7 linked regions of the Homo sapiens genome follow. The protein of the gene in region 5 purifies or fractionates together with the protein of the main gene of each other region. This does not show direct contact. Each region holds a gene or a part of one and is shown on either strand. Other genes may lie near its edges.

Evidence for each region.
Region 1: the proteins of OCLN (region 5) and ACAD9 purify together in Homo sapiens (affinity purification with mass spectrometry; one large-scale study listed by BioGRID and IntAct). This does not show direct contact.
Region 2: the proteins of OCLN (region 5) and FBLN1 purify together in Homo sapiens (affinity purification with mass spectrometry; 2 studies listed by BioGRID and IntAct, with this or other methods). This does not show direct contact.
Region 3: the proteins of OCLN (region 5) and EPN1 purify together in Homo sapiens (affinity purification with western blotting, with the first as the bait; one study listed by BioGRID). This does not show direct contact.
Region 4: the proteins of OCLN (region 5) and MIA3 purify together in Homo sapiens (affinity purification with mass spectrometry; one large-scale study listed by BioGRID and IntAct). This does not show direct contact.
Region 6: the proteins of OCLN (region 5) and STX12 purify together in Homo sapiens (co-immunoprecipitation; one large-scale study listed by IntAct). This does not show direct contact.
Region 7: the proteins of OCLN (region 5) and EFEMP1 purify together in Homo sapiens (affinity purification with mass spectrometry; 2 studies listed by BioGRID and IntAct, with this or other methods). This does not show direct contact.

What each region holds. Positions count from the first base shown.
Region 1 is NC_000003.12:128,896,620-128,900,119, forward strand, and holds part of ACAD9 (complex I assembly factor ACAD9, mitochondrial), read left to right. Parts: intron 1-1,012; coding exon 1,013-1,091; intron 1,092-2,667; coding exon 2,668-2,842; intron 2,843-3,500. UniProt on the Homo sapiens protein: As part of the MCIA complex, primarily participates in the assembly of the mitochondrial complex I and therefore plays a role in oxidative phosphorylation.
Region 2 is NC_000022.11:45,509,383-45,512,882, reverse strand, and holds part of FBLN1 (fibulin-1 isoform D precursor), read right to left. Parts: intron 1-3,500. UniProt on the Homo sapiens protein: Incorporated into fibronectin-containing matrix fibers. May play a role in cell adhesion and migration along protein fibers within the extracellular matrix (ECM).
Region 3 is NC_000019.10:55,681,726-55,685,225, forward strand, and holds part of EPN1 (epsin-1), read left to right. Parts: intron 1-3,500. UniProt on the Homo sapiens protein: Binds to membranes enriched in phosphatidylinositol 4,5-bisphosphate (PtdIns(4,5)P2). Modifies membrane curvature and facilitates the formation of clathrin-coated invaginations. Regulates receptor-mediated endocytosis.
Region 4 is NC_000001.11:222,665,802-222,668,507, forward strand, and holds the end of MIA3 (transport and Golgi organization protein 1 homolog isoform 1 precursor), read left to right. Parts: 3' UTR 1-2,206; downstream 2,207-2,706.
Region 5 is NC_000005.10:69,499,290-69,502,789, reverse strand, and holds part of OCLN (occludin), read right to left. Parts: intron 1-3,500. UniProt on the Homo sapiens protein: May play a role in the formation and regulation of the tight junction (TJ) paracellular permeability barrier.
Region 6 is NC_000001.11:27,800,719-27,804,218, reverse strand, and holds part of STX12 (syntaxin-12), read right to left. Parts: intron 2,542-3,500; coding exon 2,404-2,541; intron 1-2,403. UniProt on the Homo sapiens protein: SNARE promoting fusion of transport vesicles with target membranes. Together with SNARE STX6, promotes movement of vesicles from endosomes to the cell membrane, and may therefore function in the endocytic recycling pathway.
Region 7 is NC_000002.12:55,871,783-55,875,282, forward strand, and holds part of EFEMP1 (EGF-containing fibulin-like extracellular matrix protein 1 precursor), read right to left. Parts: intron 3,284-3,500; coding exon 3,164-3,283; intron 2,187-3,163; exon of another isoform or gene 2,101-2,186; intron 1-2,100. UniProt on the Homo sapiens protein: Binds EGFR, the EGF receptor, inducing EGFR autophosphorylation and the activation of downstream signaling pathways. May play a role in cell adhesion and migration. May function as a negative regulator of chondrocyte differentiation.

The sequences.
Region 1 (3,500 bases), on a different chromosome or scaffold from region 5:
GAGTAGCTGACTTTTCCTTCTTTCCAAAATCTTGCAAAGAATCAACTCAGCAACTGTTCTTGCCATTCCTCTTATCTTGACCTTATTTCTCTGTCCCAGTGAGACTTGCAAGTGAGATACCACGCTTGACAGCACTTATTAAATAAATTTTTGTGGTTTACAACACACCTTGACATACAATATAGTAATAACGTTCCGGCTTCAAAGCACCTTTCAGAATATATAGCGTGGGTGGTACTGCTCCCACTTACACATTAGGAGCTGAGGTTCAGTGAGGCTGTGTGATCTGCTGGATGGAGCAGGGCTGCGGCAGCACTCGGGACTCTGATGATAAGTCCATCACCTGGACCATCCTCCATCCTGCTTCACTTTGCATGAGAACCTGGGAACAGTCATCCTTCCTGGGGTGCCCAGAACTCATCCTCACAGGACCTCAGATGAGCCCATTGCAAGCACCCATTTCCATGTTTAAACCTAAGCCCAAGTTGTTTTCACTGCCGCTTTTTTACGTGATGTATTGAAGCAGAGGTCGGCTAAATCCAGCCTCCTGCCTGTTTTTTATAAATAAGTTTTGTTTGTTTGTTTTTGAGACAGGGTCTTGCTGCGTCACCCAGGCTGGAGTGCAGTGGCTCAATCTCATCTCACTGCAACCTCCGCCTTCAAGCGATTCTTCTGCCTCAGCCTCCCGAGTAGCTGGGACTACAGGCATGCCCCACCACACCCAGCTAATTTTTGTATTTTTAGTAGAGACGGGGTTTCACCATGTTGGCCAGATCTCAATCTCTTGACCTCGTGAACCACCTGCCTCAGCCTCATGTTCTATTAATAGCAGCAGAGTTGAGGAGGTGAGACAGACATCCTGCAGCTTGGAAAGCTGAATATGTTATCTGACCCTTCATTTTAAAAGTTTGCTGACCTCTTACAAGTACTAAAACCTCCATTTTCAGGCCCTCAAAAGCATTCATATTTATTCCCAGTATTCTCCCTTGACCACATCTTTCTGCATCTGCAGTGGGAGCGATGCAGCCTCAATCCGGAGCAGAGCCACACTAAGTGAAGACAAGAAGCACTACATCCTCAATGGCTCCAAGGTAGGGTTCCTTCCCCATGGCCACATTAGGGTCTCAGTCACAACCTTCACTGCCACTGAGTGAGCACTCTCCACACACCAGGGATTGTACCTGCTGCTGTAGCACCGACTACCTTCTTGAGCTGCTTTTATGTGTTTGTTTTTAATTTTTTTTAGTTTTTTTTATTTGCGATGGAGTCTCTGTCACCCAGGCTGGAGTGCAGTGGTGTAATCTCAGCTCACTGAAACTTCTGCCTCCCAGGTTTCCAATGATTCTCCTGCCTTAGCCTCCTGGGTAGCTGGGATTAGAGGTGCGTGTCACCACTCCTGGCTAATTTTTGTATTTTCAGTAGAGATGGAGTTTCACCATGTTGTCCAGTCAGGTCTTGAACTCCTGACCTCAAGTGATCTGCCCACCTCGGCCTCCCAAAGTGCTGAGTTTACAGGCAATGAGCCACTGTGCCCGGCTTGTAAACCCAAAAAATCTTTAAATTTTTTGTTACACAAAGTTTCAGACATATTCTGTGTGCCTGGCTGGCCCTAACTCCGGCAGTCACCTGCTTATGGCCACTGTGCCTCTTCCAGCAGCATCGCCACCTCCAGATCGCATGGTAACAATCTCAGCATGCCTCTCTAAAAGACAGGAGTTTTTTTTGTTTGTTTTTGTTTTTTAATAAACACAAAGCCGTAATACCCTTATCACATTTTAAAAATTGATAATTTCTCTTTTCTTTTGAGACAGGGTCCCGCTCTGTCACCCAGGCTGGAGTGCAGTGGCACGATCTTGGCTCACTGCAGCCTCAACTTCCTGGGCTCAGGTGATTCTCCTACCTCAACCTCCCAAGCAGCTGGGAGTACAGGCACACAGCTAACTCTTTGTATTTTTTTTTTGGTAGAGATGGGTTTTCACCGTGTTGCCCAGGTTGGTCTCAAACTCCGGGGCTCAAGTGGTCTGCCCACCTCGGCCTCCCAAAGTGCTGGGATTACAGGCGTGAGCCACTGTGCCCAGCTAATAATTTCTTACTTCTATCAGCATTCAAATATCCCTGATTGCCTCATACCTTTTTTTGGTTTAACTGTTTGCTTGAATTAAGATCCACACAAGTCCCATCTGTTGCTGTTTGTTAAGGAGTCTGTTTCTGCCTCTGTCTCCCTCTGTTTCCTTTCCTCCTCCTCACCACCCTCCCGCCTTTTTTCATTTCTTTGTAGAATTAACAAATAAATGTTGTGTGTATTTACATCTACAACATGATGTTTTTATATATGTATACCTTAAGAAATGATTAAACCCTTTCTTTCTTGAAGAAATGCAGTTGTCTGGCGGTGGAGCCTGAGCTGTCTGACAACTTTGGGTGTTCTTTCCCCCGCCCCCGCCTCCACCTGGCCATCCATGTCCCTTGGGAAAATCCTTGCTCTGGGGAAAGTGGGCTGAGCCCTGTCCTCTATTCACTCATGCTTGGTTGGCTTCTGCAGAGCCAAGGACCCTGCATGTCTGGCCTGAGGTCTGACTGGCAGCTGGAGCTTGATGGACAAAGACAGAGCTGAGGTGGGTCACATAGGGGTTTGGTTTTCTCCAAAGTCCATCTTTCTGTCCTCAGGTCTGGATTACTAATGGAGGACTGGCCAATATTTTTACTGTGTTTGCAAAGACTGAGGTCGTTGATTCTGATGGATCAGTGAAAGACAAAATCACAGCATTCATAGTAGAAAGAGACTTTGGTGGAGTCACTAATGGGAAACCCGAAGATAAATTAGGCATTCGGGGCTCCAACAGTAAGTAGCTCCTGTGCGCGCGTGCGCGTGTGTGTGTGTAAGGGGGAGACTGGCCTTTGACGGTGTGTGTGTGTGTGTGTGTGTGTGTGTGTGTGTGTGTGTAAGGGGGAGACTGGCCCTTGACTCTGTCCAAATAGCAAGATAAAATGAGATTTAAACACTTTCAGTTTTTGTTAAGCATTTTAAAAAGATCAAATTAAGAATGCCACTTGGGCTTTGTCTTTGTTCCTGCAGCTGAGTGCTGCTCACTTGAAGGCCTGCTGGTCATCCCCTGCTGTAGCTGCCCTAGCAGACACACCACCTTAGAGCTCAGCTTACAGTCCCCAGCCTTTAGTTGTCTCAGTCTGCAGTGCCTGGCAGCCTGCTTCAGGCTGTGAGTTGGGTTCAGGTCCATCTGGGTTCAGGTCCATCTGGAGGCTTGTTCTTAGAGCAGATCATAAGCACCTAAGGGGCCAAGCCAAGCCATATAAGTACTATTTTTGCCGTGGGAGACATAGTCTCCCTCTGTCACCCAGCCTGGAATGCAGTGCTGTGATCTCAGCTCACTGCAACCTCTGCCTCCTGGGTTCGAGTGATTCTCCTGTCTCAGCCTCCCAAGTAATTGGGACTACAGGCGTGCACCACCACACCTGGCTAATTTTTGTATTTTTTGTAGAGA
Region 2 (3,500 bases), on a different chromosome or scaffold from region 5:
GGAAGGCAGAGGTGGGAGGATCGCTTGAGCCCAGGAGTTCAAGCTTGCAGTGGGCCACGACTGCACCACTACACTCCAGCCTGGGGGACAGGGGGAGACCCTGTCTCAAAACAAAAAAACTAAAAACAAAAGAACACCCTGAGGATCACAGCTCCCCCGTGTGTCCTGTGAGGGTGGGGCGATGGGAGTGGGGAAGGGCCTGGGGTCCAGCCCCACCCTGGCTGTGCCTCCCGCATCCCTGCAGGGACTTCCAGCTGCTCATTTGCCTGGGGATCCGGTCACCTGTGGATATCCAAACACCAGGTGTCCTGAGCTTCGCTGCCCCATCACACAGGCTGGGGACCATCTGAGGCCCACAGAGGCACCTCCCACCTCACTGTCCTATCCACCTGCTCATCAAGTCCTACCCCATGTGTTGCCTTCTCAGTGCCTGCCCAGGACTCTCGGCCAGGCTGGGGTGGGGGCAAAAAGGGGACTGGGGCTAACAGATCCCCCACGCCAACTCCACGCCTCATAGGTACCAAGAGTTCTGCGGGGGTCAACAGCATCCAACCAACTGCCTGATCAGTCAGGCCCCCCACCTTCAGAAGGGTGTCAAATCAAGGCCATTTGTACACAAACCCTAGGGCAGCTGAGCAGCCCTGGAACACTGTGAGTCAGGAGGATAATGTGGGCCAACCGAAGCCACGCCTGCTTCTTCCATCCCAGACCGCCAACAGCTGTGAGCAGCTCTGAGATCCAAAAATTACCTCTGACCAGTACCACACTGGACACCCACCCAAGCAGAACAGGCACTCGCTGGTAACTCGACACTGGGCTGTGGGGGATCAAGAGAGAAGCAGGGCCTCAGGGGACCTGGAATCTTCTCTCCCAGATCATTTCCTGTTGTTTCGGAGGAGTTTCAATCAACCAGTCTCAATCTGACCCCTGCATCTGACCATGTGAGTTAGATCCAAAGCATAATATTAGATATAAACCAAGAGCAAACTCTTGCAAAATCTCGTTAACCTTCAACTCGAATGTTCCCAGGGAAGGCAACGCTGCGGGTTAAAACTGCTCAGCCTTGAATCCAGCTCCCTCCCTTACTAAGACTCAAGGAGGCTCACTTCCTTCATCTGTAAAAATGGGGGAAGAGGCCGGGAGCAGTGGCTCATGGGTGTAATCTCAGCACTTTGGGAGGCTGAAGTGGGCAGACATCACTTCAGTCCAGGAGTTCGAGACCAGCCTGGCCAACATGGTAAAACCCAGTCTCCACTAAAAATACAAAAATTAGCTGGGCATGGTGGCGGGCACCTGAAATCCCAGCTACTCAGGAGGCTGAGGTGAGAGAATCACTTGAACCCGGGAGGCAGAGGTTGCAGTGAGCCAAGATCGTGCCACTGTACTCCATCCTGGGTGACAGAGTGAGACTGTCTAAAAAAAAAAAAAAAGCCAGGCATGGTGGCTCATGCCTGTAATCCCAGCACTTTGAGAGGCCGAGGCAGGTGGATCACCTGAGGTTGGGAGTTTGAGACCAGCCTGACCAACATGGAGAAAGCCCGTCTCTACTAAAAATACAAAATTAACCAGGCATGGTGACGTATGCCTGTAATCCCAGCTACTCGGGAGGCTGAGGCAGGAGAATCACTTGAACCCAGGAGGCAGAGGTTGCAGTGAGCTGAGATCATGCCATTGCACTCTAGCCTGGGCAACAAGAGCGAAACTCTGTCTCAAAAAAAAAAAAAATGGGGGAAGATTGATGAGATAATCCAGGAAAAGTGCTTACATTAGCACACTGACCACAGGAAAAAACAGAAGCTTCAAAATTAAACAAAAGGAAAAGTTATCACACCAGGATTGGGAGAACATTCTTTTTCAAAGGAACCACACACTCCTCCAGGCTGACACGGTGCCCGATGGCCAACACGCCACCACATCCACCACCTCTCTTCAGGAGAGACACATGCCTGCCGGAGTAACTGGTGCAGATGGATGGAGCTGGCTCAGTTCACAGGCCTCAGATACCGTTTGTTGCCTGGGACAGCTGCTAAAACTAAATTTTTTCCAGGTGAGTTAAACCTCCATAAAGATTATGGTGTAGATCAGCGGCATGCCCCATGTTCCAAGGCATGCAGAGAAACACAGGTCACATGGCCTGCGGGGACCATGCCCTGGACACCCAGGAAGGATATGGCCACGTGCTCTTTCTAAGACTACAGATGCTCAGAGAGATTCTGTACCACTCCTTGGGTGGAAGCTTCCAGAATGTCAGCCTGCTAGCTGTAAACATCGCAGAAGCTTTGGGCAATGCCTGATCCCATCCCCAGCAGCCTGTGAGCCACGAGGATCTTAATTCCCAGGTTGCTGAGCAAGCAGACTGTCACAGAGGGGAGACTGGGGGCTGGGAACCGGGAGGCCTGGAGTCTGCTTCTGATCTCATGGTTGAGAGTTTTCCCACCCGGAGCAAGTCCGGGCCTCAGTTTTTTCATTTATAAACTGAATGGAGGATTTGGCCTGCAGTTAAGAGCAGGCTTCCCCAATCCCACCCTGTGTAAGGGCATTGCTCTGGCAAAATTTCCACTGGGTTGCAACAAAATAGGGTGAAAGCAAAGCAGGATCCAGGGACCTCTACAAAGCCGGCCCGATTCCATCTACAATACTGTCTTTTATTGTGAGACCGCGTCCTTCCAAAATCCGGGGCATTAAAATGTCCCCTACCTCTGTGAAGTGGTGACGATATGAGATGGTGGTTGAATGGGTGTCTGTTTTTTATTTTAATATCCTCATCGGGCAAATGAGGATATTTTAAGTTGGCAAAGCTCCGTGAATAGCTGGGGATGAAGTAAAGGCATGTGATCAGAAGCCAGCCTCAATTTCCTTGATTTCCTCTGCTCAAGCTCAAAAACTCAGAGGCAGCTGAGGGCGTCAGGAGTTTTTAAAAGTGAATGGGAGCTTGAGGCTTCATCCTGTGTGCCTCCCGGACTCACCACACAAAAGGATCATGCCCCCACCCCACCTGCCCCACAGCATTGTCTAAAGCTACAGCAAAGAGTTGGAGTGGCCTCCGTGGTGTCCAGAACCAAGGAACCGAAAAGCCTGAAATGCAACAAGATGTCAACCACAGAGACCCTGATGGAAAGTTCCAACCAAACAGGACTGGGCGACTCCACCCAACCCCCACCTGCACCCTGCCCCTCCTGAGTAGCTGGGATTACAGGCGCCTACCACCACGCCTGGCTAATTTTTTGTATTTTTAGTAGAGACGGAGTTTTACTATGTTGTCTGGGAAGCCACCAGGGGTCCAGCCAGATTGGCCTATGTCCCTGCATCCCTTACAGTTCCAGGATGAGGACAGACTCGTGTCCCCTCTTCAAGACCACCTGGCCTCTGCAGGAGGAAGCAGGGCGAACTGGAGCCTGCTCTTAGGGCTCCTGGCCCCATCCCCAACACAAGACCTGACTGTGTCCACTGCTGAGCCTGTTCCCAGCATCTGTCATGGAGATGACAGGGGTCTTGGATGG
Region 3 (3,500 bases), on a different chromosome or scaffold from region 5:
TCATTTTATGCAGTTGCCCACTGCTTTTTGGTTGTTTTCAGAAAAGCAAAGGAGAAATAATGACTTATTTTGCAAACTTTTTTTTTTTTTAACTTTTTTAGAGACAAAGTGTTGCTCTGTAGCCCAGGCTGGAATCCAGCAGTACAGTCATAGCTCACTGAGCCTTGACCTCCTGGGCTCCAAGCATGGTTGAGGAATAGCTGGGACCACAGGCACACACCACCATGCCCGGCTAATTTTAAGATATTTTAAATTTTTTTGTAGAGATGGCAGTCTCACTGTGTTGCCCAGGCTGGTCTTGAACTCCTGGGCTCAAGCGATCCTCTTGCCTTGGCTTCCCAAAGGGCTGGGATTATAGTCATGAGCCACTACACCTGGCCCACTTGCTCACTTCTAAAATAAGGTTTTAAATTTTTCATTAAGAAGTTGTATACTAAGCACATCATGAATGTATAACACAGCTGTTACGCATGTGGACACCTGTGTAGCCTTCACCTAGAGGGAGGTAGAGGATGCATTCAGCCTTCCAGGTTTCCTCAGGAGACCTGTCTCCCACAGCACCGTGTCTGATTTCTGTCTGCCAAGACTGTTCTTGAGCTTTATATATGTGGAGTCACACGCGTGGTCTTTTGTGTCTGGCTTCTTTTGCTCACCATCACCATCAGGTCAGCAAGGTTGACCGTGCTGTTGCATAAAGCAGTTGTTCATTTATTTTGAGAAAGTCTCACTGTTGCCCAGGCTGGAGTGCGTTGACATGTTCTCGGCTCACTGTAGCCTCTGCCTCCCGGGCTTAAGCAATCCTCCTGCCACAGCCTCCCAAGTAGCAGGGATGACACGCATGTGCCACCACGCCTAGCTAATTTTTTGTTATTTTATTTATTTATTTTTTTAGAGCTGGGGTTTTGCCATGTCACCCACGATGGTCTTGAACTCCTGGACTCAAGCGATCCACCGACTTTAGCCTCTCAAAGCACTGGGGTTACAGGATTTTGCCACTGCACCCGATTTTATATATTTATTTAATTATTGTTTCTTATTTATTTATTTATGAGACGGAGTCTCGCTGTGTTGCCCAGGCTGGAGTGCAGTGGCACCACCTCGGCTCACTGCAACTTCTGCCTCCCAGGTTCAAGCAATTCTCCTGCCTTAGCCTCCCGAGTAGCTGGGATTACAGGTACTTGCCACCACGCCTGGCTAATTTTTGTATTTTTAGTAGAGATGGGGTTTCACCATATTGGCCAGGCTGGTCTCGAACTTCTGACCTCGTGATCCGCCCGCCTTGGCCTCCCAAAGTGCTGGGATTACAGGTGTGAGCCACCGCGCCCAGCCTGTTTTTTGTTTTTTCTTGAAATGGAGTTTCGCTCTTGTTGCCCAAGCTGGAGTGCAGTGGTGCTATCTTGGCTCACTGCAACCTCTGCCTCCCAAGATCAAGCGATTCTCCTGCCTCAGCCTCCTGAGTAGCTGGGATTACAGGCGCATGCCACAATGCCTGGCTAATTTTTTGTATTTTTAGTAGAGATGGTGTTTCACCATGTTGGCCAGGCTGGTCTCAAACTCCTGACCTTGTGATCTGCCCGCCTTGGCCTCTCAAAATGGTAAGATTATAGGTGGGAGCCACCATGCCCGGCCTTATTTATTTATTTTTAAATGGAGTCTCACTCTGTCTCCCAGGCTGGAGTACAGTGGCGTGCTCTTGGCTCACTATCACCTCTGCCTCCCTGATCCACGGGATCCTCCCACCTCAGCCTCCTGAGTAGCTGGGATTACAGGTGTGCACCGCCACACCTGGCCAGTTGTTTTGTGTTTTTAGTAGAAACAGGTTTCATCATGTTGGCCAGGCTGGTCTCGAACCCCTGACCTCGGGTGGTCCACCTGCCTCAGCCTCCCATAGTGCCGGGATTATAGGCGTGAGCCACCACACCTGGCCTCATTTCTCTTTTATTTCAGTGTATGTGGTAGTCCCGCTGTGTGAGCGTGCCATAGTTGATGTATGCATTTCACTGTGCGTGGGTATTCGCACTATTTCCTGCTTCACAATCTTTTTAGCTGCGATACCAAAGTCCAGAGAGCTCTGGAAACGAAAGTGTTTCATGATCCGTTCGGCACAAAGTCTGACCCAGACTGAAGTGAGGTCGTTCACATGGTGTCTGTTGGTCCCACAGTAGTGTGGCTGTTGGCACGACTCTGCCCAGCGCGTTCTCTTATGTGTTGTATGTGCGTTATTTTCCTGGTCTGAACTCAGGAAAATTCTGAATTCCAAAACACAAGGGCCCCAGGAGTTGTGGACCTGGGACTGCCTCTTGGCTTGGGGTGTGATCAGGCATAGCAATGGCTTACCTGCTTTCCTTTCTTTCGTGTAAATACCTTGAGGGCCGGTTAAAGACTAATCTCTGATTACACTGTAAATACTGTTAACACACCTTTGAAAGGCCTTGCCAGAGCTAGGTCCAGCTGCCTCAGAGGGTGAGGAGATATGAATGGCCCTGGCATCTTTCCTGGCAGATTTCTCCTTGGTTCAGACGGAGCTTAGCTGTGATAGCTGACTCTTCCCCTAGGAGCCCTGGGTGGGTTTCTGTGGCTCTGTGAAGGCCCTGGAATCCCCTGCAGAATCAAAGTTGTGCCTTTTTTTGAGGTCAGTGACCAAGACACCCCCTGCAGAGCCTTAAGGGGGCCATGACTCCTCAAGCCCAGGACTTGAGCCTGAGCTAGGGAGAGCCTCAGAGACCTTGGTCCCCCCGCCCCCACTATTAATTTCAACTTGTTGAAAGGGAGTTTGTTTTCGTATTATAAAATACAAACATACCAAAGGGTGCAGATTGAACGATAATGTTCCCTCCGCCCTGTCCTTTTGCTCCTGGTGGTGTGGAACCTGGGTGCCCCTCCCAAGAGAGCCCGGGCCTACACAGGCCCTTGCGTGGATCTCTTCCCTTCTTGCAGAGGTGATAAACTACTGCTCCAGGCTGTTAGTACCAGCGTGAGGTTTTACAGTCAGAAATACACATTTCAAACTAGTACTAAGACCCCCTTCATTGTGATTTAACTAATGTGGTTTTCTTGGCCATGTTACTTTAGATTTTAGTTGTAAAGAAATAGACAGGGCTCCAGGATGCCAGGCGATGCCCATGGCGGCTGTGGTGCCTGTAGCTGCCATTTCCTCTTTTATTTGGATTGAGATGGAGCTCCTACACTGTGCAGCCCCCTTCATATCGCACAGTTCAGTGGCCTTCGGCCCATTCACAGTGCTGGGCGACCACCTCTGTCCAGCTCCAGAACGTCTTCATTGCCCCAGAAGGAAAACCCATAGCCTTCAGGTGGTCCCTCTCCATCCCTCCCTCCACCCCTGGCAACCCACAATCCACTCCGTCTCTCTGGATTTGCCCATTCTGGATGATTCACGTCGATGGAACCGTAGGCTGTGTGGCGTTCTGTGCTGGCGTCTGTCGCTGAGCGCAGTACCTCCGCGGCTGGTCCCCGTCACAGCGTGGGTCTGTGTTCATTCC
Region 4 (2,706 bases), on a different chromosome or scaffold from region 5:
TAAAAATCACCTTTTAAGCTAGAGCGTCCTTACAACTTTGAAATGTGCAATAAAGAATACCTGTGTTTTAGCTAATGTAGCATATGTAATTGCAAAATGATTTAGAATGTCATGAAAAATATGAACATTTCCTGTGGAAATGCTTTAAGAACATGTATTTCCATTATCCTATTTTTAGTGTACACCAGCTGAATACGGAGCAATGGTGTTTATAAGCGTTTTTTTAAACTATCTGGTCACAAAGACTGTTACGCTAAAAATGTTTACTAAAAGATCACTAAACTATCTCCCCTCTTGCTGAAGTTCTTTGTAGTAATAGCTCATAAAAATTTGTTTATTAATATTTCCCAAGTGTCTGTTGACTCATTGGACTGTTATGAGGCTTGTGCCATTTGGGGAACATGTAAACTCAGGCTCCCAGAACTGAAGATGGTGGCTGGTGGCACACTTCCGGCTGCTCCTCCGTCACCTGTGAACTCTACAAGTGACGTCTTTTTATTTCAAAGAAGTTTATTTCCCACTTGTATAGCATTCACATGCTTTCTTTACGATCCTCATTGTCTATTTGAGAATGGTTTTCTGAGAGTGAGTTTACATTAGTAGCAAGAGTTGTTTGACCTGATGTTCCATTGTTTTTACCATTCCTGTAGAAAAAGGGTGCACAACAGAAAAATGAAAATGATGTGTCATGGCCATAAAAGTATAGAAATCTTTAAAAATTTTAAAATGTACAGTCCCTTATCTATCTTTCCCATTCCTTGCCACTGATTTTTGAGGAATATAATAAAAAGATTGGAAGAGTATAATGCCATGAGAAAGAATGATTTAGGACTGTGAGGGTTATAACATGCCCTAGGTCAGCAACCAAGGGTTGAAATCAGTTCTGTTTTAGGGGGAAATGGGGGCGACAGATATTATTCCAAAATTAATATTAATTAATATTTAAACGTTGGTGTTTTTATTTAAAAATCAGTAACTAACCATCTGGAATTGCACCATACTTAAAGTCTTATCCATTACTACACTGTCTTTAAAACAATGTTTCTTTAAATACTCTACAACGTTTCTAAGAACGAACTTCAGACATTTTAATTACAGTAATAATAGCACTCCTTTTAAGGAGTTTCAGATCCACACTAAAACTAAAATCATAAAAGGCTGATACTTTTGTTTGCTGCTAGGCTATATTCTTCCATTCTTTGAAGTCCTATGATGTAATATTTTTGAAACCTAGTGTATGTCTTGTCACTGTTGTGATATTTAATCGATTAAGAATACCTTGTAAAAAGGAGCAAAAGCTTCAATGTGAAACAATTTTCTCTCTTTATACTAAACAACTGAAGATAGATAGTTTAGAAAGATAAGGACCTTTGAAAGAAGACAACTCTGTCAAAGTTCATAAGGAATATAAAAATTCTTCAGGAAAAGAGAATTCAATCTATATGTCCTCCCGTTTAATATCAAGAATAGAAGAAATTAAGAGGAAAACTCCACAGAAGAGCATAGGCCACTTTTAGCCATGTAAAAATAAGATTAAGTCACAAATACAACTTTTGAATTTACCTGTCAATATCTCTTTAGGACACAAAACAATGCTGAAGTTAATATAATTTCTAATTTTAAATGTCATTTAAGTGTAGATTATGCCATCTAGGAAGGTAAGTAGGAAAGGTAAATTAAATCTATTTTTAAAATTCAAAATATTAGAGTATTTTTCCCCTCTAAAGCCTTTTTTGGTGATTATTCTGTATCTGACATAATTGAGAAACTGGTAAGCTGTAAAGATTCCAGTGTAGCTTCTCTGAGAAGTTGTGAGCCAGTCCATAACTGCTTCCTCACATCCATCTGATTGCACCATTTCTGCAGCAAACCCCAAAGCAGGGTGCCAATATGCAGATGGCATAGGGAGTATCATCCCTCAGCCAAATCACTTTTCCATCTCTAAAGTTTCATCTATTTTGGAAGTCATCTCCAACTAATTGTGTCTGGATTTAGTTGCTAAAATTGTCTTATTTATGAAGCAGCAATATTCAGCCTGAAAGCATTTCTGCCATAGTTGTTGTAGTTATATCGCCAATGGCTGATTTTTTTCATTGGAAAGTAAATTTAAGTAATTCGTGGGATGTGGTATATTCTGTGTCAACTTCAAGATAATCACTCATTTTCTCGTTATATTCAGGTCTGAATTAAAGTTAAGTTAATCACACAGTGTTCAATTTAAGCTTCTTTAATGTTGATGAAAGGTATTTGTAGTTCATATAAACTATACTTATGTGAAGGATAGCAGATGCTTCATATAAATTATCATTTTGATATACATATCTTATGGTTTATGAGAAAAGAGAAAAAATAATACATCGGTTTTGCTACACTTTAATGGGTTTTTTTTTTAAGGGATTTTTTTTCAGGTCTTGTCAGCAACATCAAACAAAAGGTACTGAGTACTCCACAGGGTACAGAGTGCTGCCAAGCACCTTAGAAAAATTACATGACACGGAGAAAATGCGCCTCTTGCTCCTTGAAGAGCTTACAGTCTAGGGATTTGACAACTCACAGTCTTAGGAACTGGGCAAAGTAAGGCAAATTCTTCATCCCCTAGAGCTATTGTGGACTGAATCATTTTAGAATTTGGAATTAATCCAATCAAGATGAGAGACAAGACTAAATTTGGCTGAGAATTCATTCAGGCTCGCATAGTTTTTATTA
Region 5 (3,500 bases):
GGAAAAAGACAAGTCTCAGCAAGATGTGGTAAACACACAACCCCCTAACCTATAAAGCTTGAGGATTATTCTAGAAAACCCAGTGCTGGAGACACTGGCAAGGTACTTCCCACATCAGCTACAGAACTTCATGCCACTCCTTAGCTATGTTGAACCAACAATAAATTCTTTCCAGGTTATACCAGTGATTAGTAGAGTAGGGAACTTTGAGATCTACTGGAAGGTAAATTCCATGTGAGCAGGAATTTTTGCATGTTTTGTTCACTGATTAAATCAATGCCTGGCACATAGTAGACGTCCAGATAATTTGTTGAATGTTTACAGGAACCAGATTGGACCATGGATATCTCTGCCTGCAAAACCTCTTGTGCTTTCAAGTTGAAGGTAACGGAAAAGTATCAGAGTAACTTTAAAAGGTATGATCCCTGAATGACACTTGAGTAACATCTATAATGAGTACATTAAAGTATCTGATTTTTTTTCCTTTTCTAATACGGTCTGTACAATCATACATTAATATATTAACAACAGTACATCAATTCAGACTCTTAAAACTTTTTTTTAAATTAATGGCAACTCTTTTTTTTTTTTTTGAGCCGAGTCTCGCTCTGTCACCAGGATGGAATGCAATGGCATGATCTCAGCTCACTGCAATCTCCGCCTCCCGGCTTCAAGCGATTCTCCTGCCTCAGCCTCCCGAGTAGCTGGGACTACAGGCGCACGCTGCCACGCCCGGCTAATTGTTTGTATTTTTAGTAAAGATGGGGTTTCACCATGTTGCACAGTCTGGTGTCAAACTCCTGAGCTCAGGCAATCTGCCCTCCTTGGCCTCCCAAAGTGCTGGGATTACAGGCATGAGCCACCACGCCCCACCTGGCAACTCTCTTCTATACCCTTTAGGACAGTGTATTTCAAATCTCTCAGAATTAAACCCTGCCCAACTATGTATTAGATAAATCCTCAAAGATGGAAATATATAGAATGTTAATAACACCAACACAATTAGCATAATTTTCCAAAGACATGAAGGAAGATGACTTTTCTACATTTTTAAAAGCCACTTTTAAAGTATACCATAGAGAAAAGTGCACAAATCATAAGTGTACACAGCCCTGTAACTAGCACTCAAGTCAATTTCTCTATACTTTTTTTTTTTTTCTTTTGAGACAAGGTCTCATTCTGTTGCCCAGGATGAAATGCAGTGCCATCATCTCAGCTCACTACAACCTGCCTCCCAGGCTCAAGCAATCCTCCTGCCTCAGCCTCACAAGTAGCTGGACTACAGGCACATGCCACCACGCCTGGCTAATTTTTGTATTTTTAGTAGAGATAAGGTTTCACCATGTTGCCCAGGCTGGTCTCAAACCCCTGAGCTCAAGCTATCCACCTGCCTTGGCCTCCCAAAGTACTGGGATTACAGGCATGAGCCAATACACCTGGCCAATTTCTCTATATTCTAGTAATGGTGAAACACACATACAAATGAGCAATTTAGGCGAAAATGTTATGGTACTATAAAAAGGCAAAAGTCCAGATTGTCTTCAGAAAAAGAACATTAAGGAATACTGAATTTAGGCCAGGTGAGGTGGCTCACACCTGTAATTCCAGCACTTGGGAGGTGGAGACAGGTGGATCACCCTAGGTCAGGAGTTCGAGACCAGCCTGGCCATCATGGCAAAACCCCGTCTCTACTAAAAATACAAAAATTAGCTGGGCATGGTGGCACGTGCCTGTAATCCCAGCTACTTGAGAAACTGAGGCATGAGAATCGCTTGAGCCCGAGGTGGAGGTTGCAGTGAGCCAAGATTGTGCCACTGCACTCCAGCGTGGGTGACAGAGCAAGACTCCTTTAAAAAAAAAAAGTAAAACAGAAAATCTGAAGTTAAGCACTATTAAATGTGGGATCCTAGTTCTGAAGCTGAATGTCAAATATCCCCAAATTCTAGGTTCAGTGGTAGTTTTGGAAACTCTAAATTAATCCAGACTCAGTCTTAAGTTGTCAAAAATTCAAACAAGATCCCTTTTCAAACTGCTATTTCCAGGATTCAGAGTTGTCACGTCTCCCCAAAAGCACGGATTTTAAATTGTGAACCAAATCATGTGGCTCATGCCTGTAATCCCAGCACTTTGGGAGGCCGAGGCAGGTGGATCACATGAGGTCTGGAGTTCAAGACCAGCTGACCAATGTGGTGAAACCCTATCTCTACTAAAAATACAAAAAATTAGAGGGGCGTGGTGGTGCATGCCTGTAAACCCAGCTACTTGGGAGGCTGAGGTAGCAGAATTGCTTGAACCTGGGAGGCGGAGTTCGCAGTGAGCCAGTATTGCGCCATTGCACTCCAGCCTGGGCAAAAAGAGCAAAACTCCGTCTCAAAAAAAAAAAAAAGAAAAGAAAGCTCGTTAAGAACAAGTCATGCCACACCAACTTCATTTCCTTTTCTGGGAAGGTTACCAAACTGGTGGATTTTATTTTCTCCTTTATTATTTCCTCTTCAGGGAATGCAGAGAGAAAGAATCCTGAAAATCTTGAGCACATCCTTGTGTGGGTGGGCAGATTCCCAAGGGGCTGGATTACGGCACCCAATTAGCACAAAAGAATGAACCATTTATGTCCACCTGGTGGGAGGTCTCCACTGGTAAACACAGACAAAGTGGAGGAGACACGCTTATCCAGATTTGCAGCTGACCAAACACACTGGAAAGGATAACTAACCCATTGGCTAGGGCCATCAACACTAAGCAAGATCTCTGTAATGTCAGAATGATGAGTTTGAAACAACCTAGTGGTTTTAACAGCCCCCATTTACTGGCTCGCAATCTGAGACAAATTCCTTATCTCCTCTAAGTGCACTCAAATGCGGGAATAATCCTGACCTCTGCACTGGGATAAGAAAAAGTCTTAAAGAGCTGGGCGCAGTGGTTCACGCCTGTGATCCCAGCACTTTGGGAGGCCGAGGCGGGTGGATCACGAGGTCAAGAGATCAAGACCATCCTGGTCAACATAGTGAAACCCTGTCTCTACTAAAAAAATACAAAAATTAGCTGGGCTTGGTGGCGCGCGCCTGTAGCCCCAGCTACTCAGGAGGCTGAGGCAGGAGAATCGCTTGAATCCAGGAGGAGGAGGTTGCAGTGAGCTGAGGTCACGCCACTGCACTCCAGCCTGGCGACGGAGCGAGACTCCGGCTCAAAAAAAAAAGAAAGAAAAAAACCACAAGAAAAAGTCTTCAAGAAAATGGGCAACTGCATTCATCATAAGGTGGTTATCCTGAAAGTAAGAAATTTCAGTGCTTAGGCACTTAGGTATATTGTATCCATTTTCAAATACAGCTGACCCTCCACATCCATGGGTTTTAAATTCTGATTCAACCAACCTCAGACAGAAAATATTCAGGGGAAAAAAAAATTAAAAATTACAGGGCAGGTACAGTGGCTCACACCTGTAATCCCAACACTCTAGGAAGCTGAAGCAGGAAGATCACTTGAACCCAGGAGTCCAAGAC
Region 6 (3,500 bases), on a different chromosome or scaffold from region 5:
CCTGACCTCAGGTGATCCACCCGCCTCGGCCTCCCAAAGTGCTGGGATTACAGGCATGAGCCACTGCGCCCGGCCACAGAATTTAATGATTTTTAAGAGTGTAATGGGTTCCTGAGATTAAAAAGTTTGACAACTTTTGTTCTATTGAGTTGTATCTTTCTTTTTCATATTGATTCATGGGAATTCTGGGGTTTTTTTTGTTTTGTTTTTTGTTTTTTGAGATACAATCTTGTTGTGTCGCCCAGGCTGGAGCACAGGGGCACAATCTCAGCTCACTGCAACCTCTGTCTCCCTGGTTCAAGCGATTCTCCTGCCTCAGCCTCCAGAGTAGCTGGGATTACAGGCACGCGCTACCACGCCCAGCTAATTTTGTATTTTTAGTAGAGACAGGGTTTCACCATGTTGGCCAGGCTGGTCTTGAACTCCTGACCTCGTGATCTGCCCACCTTGGCCTCCCAAAGTGCTGGGATTACAGGTGTGAGCCACCACGCCTGGCCGAATTCTTTATATATTCTAAATGCTAGTCCTTTGCTATTAAATATATATAGCAATGTCTTCTCCCTGTGACTAGTCTTTTCACATCTTTACCACTTTTTTTGTTCTTCATTTCTTTCTGCTTTTCAGACTTTCCATCTGAGATCACTTTCCTTCCATCTGAAATACATTATTTAGAATTTCCTTCAATAAGATGTGCTGACAGAAAACTCTCTTTTGATTGAAAATGTCTTTAATTAGCCCTCATTCTGACATATATTTTCACTGGGTTTAGAATCCTAGGTAGGCAGTTATTGTCCTTCATCAACATTCAAGATAGCACTCTACTGGCTTCCACTGTTGTTGAGAAGTCAACTGTCAATCTAACTATTGTATCTTTGAAGGTATTCTAATGTTTCTCTAGCTATCTTTATGATTTTTCTCTTTGTCTCTGGTCTGAAGTTTGTCTTTGATGTATCTAGATTAGAGATTTTATTTATCCTGCTTGGGATTTGTTAGGCTTCTTGAAACTGCAGGCTAGTGTTTTTAATCAGTTCTAGAATATTATCACTCATTATTTCTTCAAATATCACCTCTGTTCTATGTTTGCCCTATTCTCACTCTATAACTCCAGTTAAAACTACGTTAGATCTTTTCTCTCCATTCTCCATTTTTCATAATCTTTCTTCCGTATTTAACCTCTTAACCCCCTATGCTACATGCTGGATAATATATTCTAACCAATTTTTTAGTTAAACCACCCATCCACTAAGTTTTTAAATTTCTATATTATATCTTTCCATTTTAGAAATTCTTTTGACACTTTTTCAAATCTTTGTGTAGTTTCCTGCAGAGGTTTTCAGCCTTTTATGTCTTTAAACACAATAAGTATAGTTGTCTTATAATTCTAATATAAAAAGTCTTTGTAGGTATATTTCACTTCATTGTTGTTTCTACTAATTCTTGTTCAGAGTAATTTGTTTCTTTGCACACATGGTTATTTTTAGTGACTGGTACTTACTGCCCTAGAAAAATTATTTGAGAGTATTATTTCAGGGCTAGGATAAAGGTGTCTTTCTACAGAAGGAATTTGTGTTTGCTTCTATCCCACACATAGGTGGCTCTCCCAGTCCAGGACCACTGAACCATTCAGGTAGGATGAATTTGAGCAGAAAATCTGCCTGAAGAAGGTTACTTTGTGGTAACCTTGTCTAGATTTCTCCTCCCTCCTGCCCTCCTCCTCCATCTGCTCAGTTCAGTGCTAATGCAATCTTTCTGTAATCTGCCGGGGGATAGAAGAGCTTACTTTTGACTTAATGTTCTAAGGATATAGTCTCTTAGGGCCCAGTTTAATTTGAGTTGTACCTTCTTTTATATTCTCTCTCTTGCATGGACCTTTGGCTTTGACTTTTATCCTCCCCATGCCATGAGGATATCAAAACTGAAGTTCAAGTTTGCCTTCAGTAAAGACATTCAATGCAAAAGCAGTTTCAGTATTCTGCTGACCTCTCAGGCTTTACCTTAATATTTTCATAATCTTTGATACTTTTGAGAAGTTGGATTTTTAAAATCCAGTATTTGAAAATCCTTTTCAAAAACAGAGGGCTAGTCCAAATAAACTAGCCTGTTATATTCCAGGAAACAGATTCATTATTTTTATTTTCAAGTTTTTAACGTTAAAACCAATATATCAAAATGAAAAAGAAAATTAGACATAGTTCTTCCTCCTATATCTCTTAACCTTCATTCAGATTCCTTTCTAGGCTTTGATCACATGCATATATGTTTTTTACATAGGTTACACCAACCTGCCATTTTCACAGCAGCTAACTTACATGTTTATTGGTCAAAGAGAAAAAGAAAAAAACCCACAAACTTGGAAAAGAACATTCTGATATTGCAAAGGTCTTCTTTTGGGAATCAACTTACAGAAAGACGAGATCCAGCTCTTGCTCTGGCAATACTCTCCTTTTCCTTTTCAGATACCCTTCTCTGCACAGCCTGGAAATTGTTTAAGGCTGCAGAGAAGTCATTCATGAGGCGTTCCTTCTGAAGTCTCTGCTGGCGCTAAGGAAATCAAGCAAGAACTTGAGATTTCATATTAACCCAGAATCATTTGGTTTTAATTTCCCTTAAAAGTAAAATTATACCCCTTAAAGATTTCCAACTAGGAAAATTATTATGAAATAGTCTCTTCTTTAAATTAATAAATTTGCTCTTTGCTAGCTCAAGTCCCTGGTTAATACTATAGACCAAGTCAGAATTTTTCTTCTTTCATTCTGACAAACCTGGAACTGGGTTGCATTTAACTTCTTCTTCTTTTTTTTTTTTTCTTTTTATTGAGACGGAGTCTTGCTCTGTCGCCCAGGCTGGAGCGCAGTGGCATGATCTCAGCTCACTGCCAACCTCTGCCGCCCGTGTTCAAGCGATTCTTGTGCCTCAGCCTCCTGAGGAGCTGGGATTACAGGCACCCACCACCATACCTGGCTAATTTTTTATTGTATTTTTAGTACAGATGGGGTTTCGCCATGTTGGCCGGGCTATTGTAGAACTCCTCACCTCAGGTGATCTGCCCGCCTCGGCCTCCCAAAGTGCTGGGATTACAGGCGTGAGTCACTGTGCCCAGCCTGTATTTAACTTCTAAAGTAATCTCCAAAGAACTGCAATTCAGAATTTTGGTGCCCTGGAGAATATAAAAGAGAATAAATACCTCTGGACTCCAGTTGAATCCAAACAGAGATGGGTTTTAGCTAAAATGTTAAAACCCTATTCATCTATATTGAATTCACAGCTTCCCTGTAAACTATAGAAGCATTTCACAGGCTTTTAGTGGTTTAAAATCTTTGAGACTTGGTAAGTACTTCATTTATCTACAGACTACCTCTACTAAGCTTGTTACTTCTATGTCTCAAAAAACATATGCTGAGGTTGAGCACAGTGGCTTATGCCTATAGTCCTAGTATTTTGGGAGGCTGAGGCAGGAGGATCACTTGAGCCTAGGAGTTCAAGACCAGCCTGAGCAACAT
Region 7 (3,500 bases), on a different chromosome or scaffold from region 5:
TGTCCAGAGGAAGCACAGCACAGGAAGTGAAACTATGAAGTGTTCCACCTCATAGAGCATAGCAATTTTAGGACTGTAAGGAAAAAGAGGAAGTTAAGGAAGAGGCTGTCAGTGCAGGGAGACAACCCAGGAAAAGGCAATGCCAAAGAAGTCAGAGGGAGAGAGAATCCTGGGAAGAAGGGTTGTGTTTACCTCAGGCTGGACAAAGATTGACTTTAAATTTGGGAATCAGAAGCCTCCAGATGACATCTGAGAGAACAGTTTTACTAGAGAGCCATTACATTTATAACAACAACAACAACAACAATAAAAATAAAATTAATATCTACATCTCTATGTCTGTCTCCCTTTACATTTGAATAGTGATTTATATTTTATTCAATGTAAACTTTTTCTGAATCATTCCTTCTCCACAATGAGATATTTTTATTCATGAATTTACTCATTCCATAAGTAATTTACTGAATCCTTGCTGTAAGCCAAGCATGGGCTAGGTGCTGGGATATGATCTCTTTTGAATTCTCATACCCGGTGTTCTTTTTTAAGGGCCTTTATTGCTTTCTGCTTTGCATTATTGCAATCTGCATGTCTAGCTTAACCCTTCTATTAGCTTGTAAACTCCTTGAGGGCAAGGGTTATTGTACCCATCTTTTAATCCTTTCATCACCTAGCATTAATGCAATAGAGCATCTGGCTTTTAAGAAATATTAAATTGAACTAAGTTGCTCTTCACACAAACTGTGTGGAGGTAGGTGAGAAAGATATTTCCACTTGATATGGATGAAAAACAAATAAGGGTTTAGTGGCTCATTCAAGTTCATATACTCTAAATAATTCATGCCTTGACTTTGGAGGAAAAAAAAGTATTTTAGCTTCCAAACTGGCTAAAGTTATCTGGAACTCAAGAACAGACTGGGAAAGCTAGGTAGTCTCCAAGAGACAGTTACAAAAAGTGTCTTCTTGGGCTGGCTATGGCTGAAGAAAGAAAACTTAGATTCTTCAAATGAAATCACAATTGACTTATCCTTTCAGTATTTTCCACTTTTTTGAAGAATAAAGATGCTGTTTAGGTACAGGGAAAACTAATACTTATTTGTTATATGGAGTCCAACAGAAGCAAAAGACAACCTTATAATTTCATTTATTACTTCCATTAATGTAGAGCCTAGCATAATCATCACCTTAATCATTCTGGAAGATTTTTCAGAAATTAATACTCTCAAAATATTTGATGAGTGTGTGTCTATGTGTATGTGTATTCTTTTGTCTCTCTGTCTCTCTCTCCACACACACACACACACACACACACACACACACACAGTTTTCATTTGTATAGGCCTGTGAAATGAGAACAGTTATTTCATCCACAAAATAAGTCTTTTAGAGAAAGTTAAGAATCCAAAACTTTCAATTTCATTTTATTCCTGTGGACAAGGCTCAGAAGGAACGATTTCCGTAGGAGAAAGCAATTGCTTTATACTTTAGAAGAATGCTAAGTCTTTTTCACAAAAAATGTTTTGGCTTAACCAAACATTCTGAAGCTGCATATCTTCAATATATAACATTTAGGAATCCCCCACTTACAATTTTGGTGCATTTTCCACCTTTAATTACAATAGATATAAATGTTTCCACATAGATAGGCTAGGCAGGTCGGATCCCACCGTGCATTAATCTGCTTCTGTCTTTTGCTGAGCATCAAATCAATTTTTGATCAGAAACACATAGATATTTGTTTGAAGGACTCCAGAGAAATTTGTTAAGACATTCCACTAGCTAACATTTTCTTGCATGTAATATGCATGTTGAAAGTCTCAATTAGGGTTCAGTAAGTAAAATCATTGGAATGCAATGTTTTCCCATAATTAACATTTATAAAGTCTCTAGTAACCTGGAAAGGGTTATAAAGATGTTCATTGTGCAATGAACTACATTCTGATTATGCTCATACTCAGTGGTTGGAGTCTAGTCGAAAAATTGTGTGCCTATTATAAAATCCCAGGTAATGGATTTCCTCTAAGTTAATATTTTCCTGTAAAATCATGATATAGACTGAGAATCCCCAGTGTCTCCTTTCCTTGATCTTTCTTTTCTTAACAGGATCTTTATTGTCCTTGTGTGCCTTCACTCCAACTCTGATTAAAAAGGACTCTCTACAGAAGACGTACTACTGGTCACTTACATTGGTAAGTAAATTTCATAAAAACACCTTGACCTGTACAAGCTTTATAGTTTACAAATTATTTTTATGTATGTTATTCCACTAAATTCCCACAACTCCCTTTTCCAAATGAGGAAGCTGAGGCTCAGAGTAGTTTGATAATTTGTTCAAGATTGTGCAGACTGAATACAGTGGAGCTGGGATTCAAACAGGTTTTCTGTCAAGTTTGGTCATTTTTTCATTCTTTTGTTGCTTTGTGTAAATTTAAGTGTTTGTACTAGCTTTTCCAGGATTTTCTACGTTTTTGGTTTTATCTGACAGTCCTTTCCCTGTTAAGAAAATTTTCAACTACATGCAACATTGGAGGTAGGGTCCTTTTTTTTTTTAGATCTTCCTGAGAAACTCTGAAATCATACCATTGTGGGGAGCTGCCTCTTCCACTTACGTATAGGTGTGAAGATCATCTGAATGTTTATTTTGAAACTGGACCCAAGGTCATTAGCTATTTTGGGGCTAGTAGTTTTCTCTAAAATATTCAACTATATTTTACAACATATTAGGCTGACTTTTCTCAGCACCTACATTCTTACGCAATTTATAATCCTTGTGTTTTAGAGGGCTAAGACTGGATGGAGGTATGTTTAACTCACATATTGAGCTTATGCTCTAAACTCAAACTCACAGGTGAAACATTTTAATAACTGAATCTTTTCCAGTGGATGATTTGAAGATGTATCTCAAAGAGATGATGTAGGTTACATAGAATACATATCAATATTTTATTAAAATTATTTATCTTTTAAGGACGAAAAATGTCGGCATTAGCATAGAATCACCTCTTTATGAGATGTATATATTTTATGATGAACAGGGGAAAAAAGAGCTTAAATTGTATATTGAAAGTGGGAAAAATGAAAGTCTATAGGAGAATCCTATAACTTCCTCTTGTCTCTTCCTGGCTAAAACTAAATACCTAACATATGAAAAAAAAAATAAACTTACCTTGACATGTTCTACTTCTCACCACTTGGTATCCCTGGGGGCACATACATGAGAATTTCCCAGGTTCATTGACACATTGATATTGACACAGGTAGCTTGAGGTTCTGCATTCATCAATGTCTGTTGAATTAGACAAGAGAAAGGACACAGAGTTGAAAAGTTTGTGCACCACTACTTTGGATATATATATATATATAAATTATATATATATATAAATTATAAGATTTAAAATATCTATATTAAAATAATTATATATAATTAAAATTATTTATATTTTAAGGAGGAAAAATTATATCTACCTATATATATATAAAGAGATCTGGCTTCTTGTCCTATT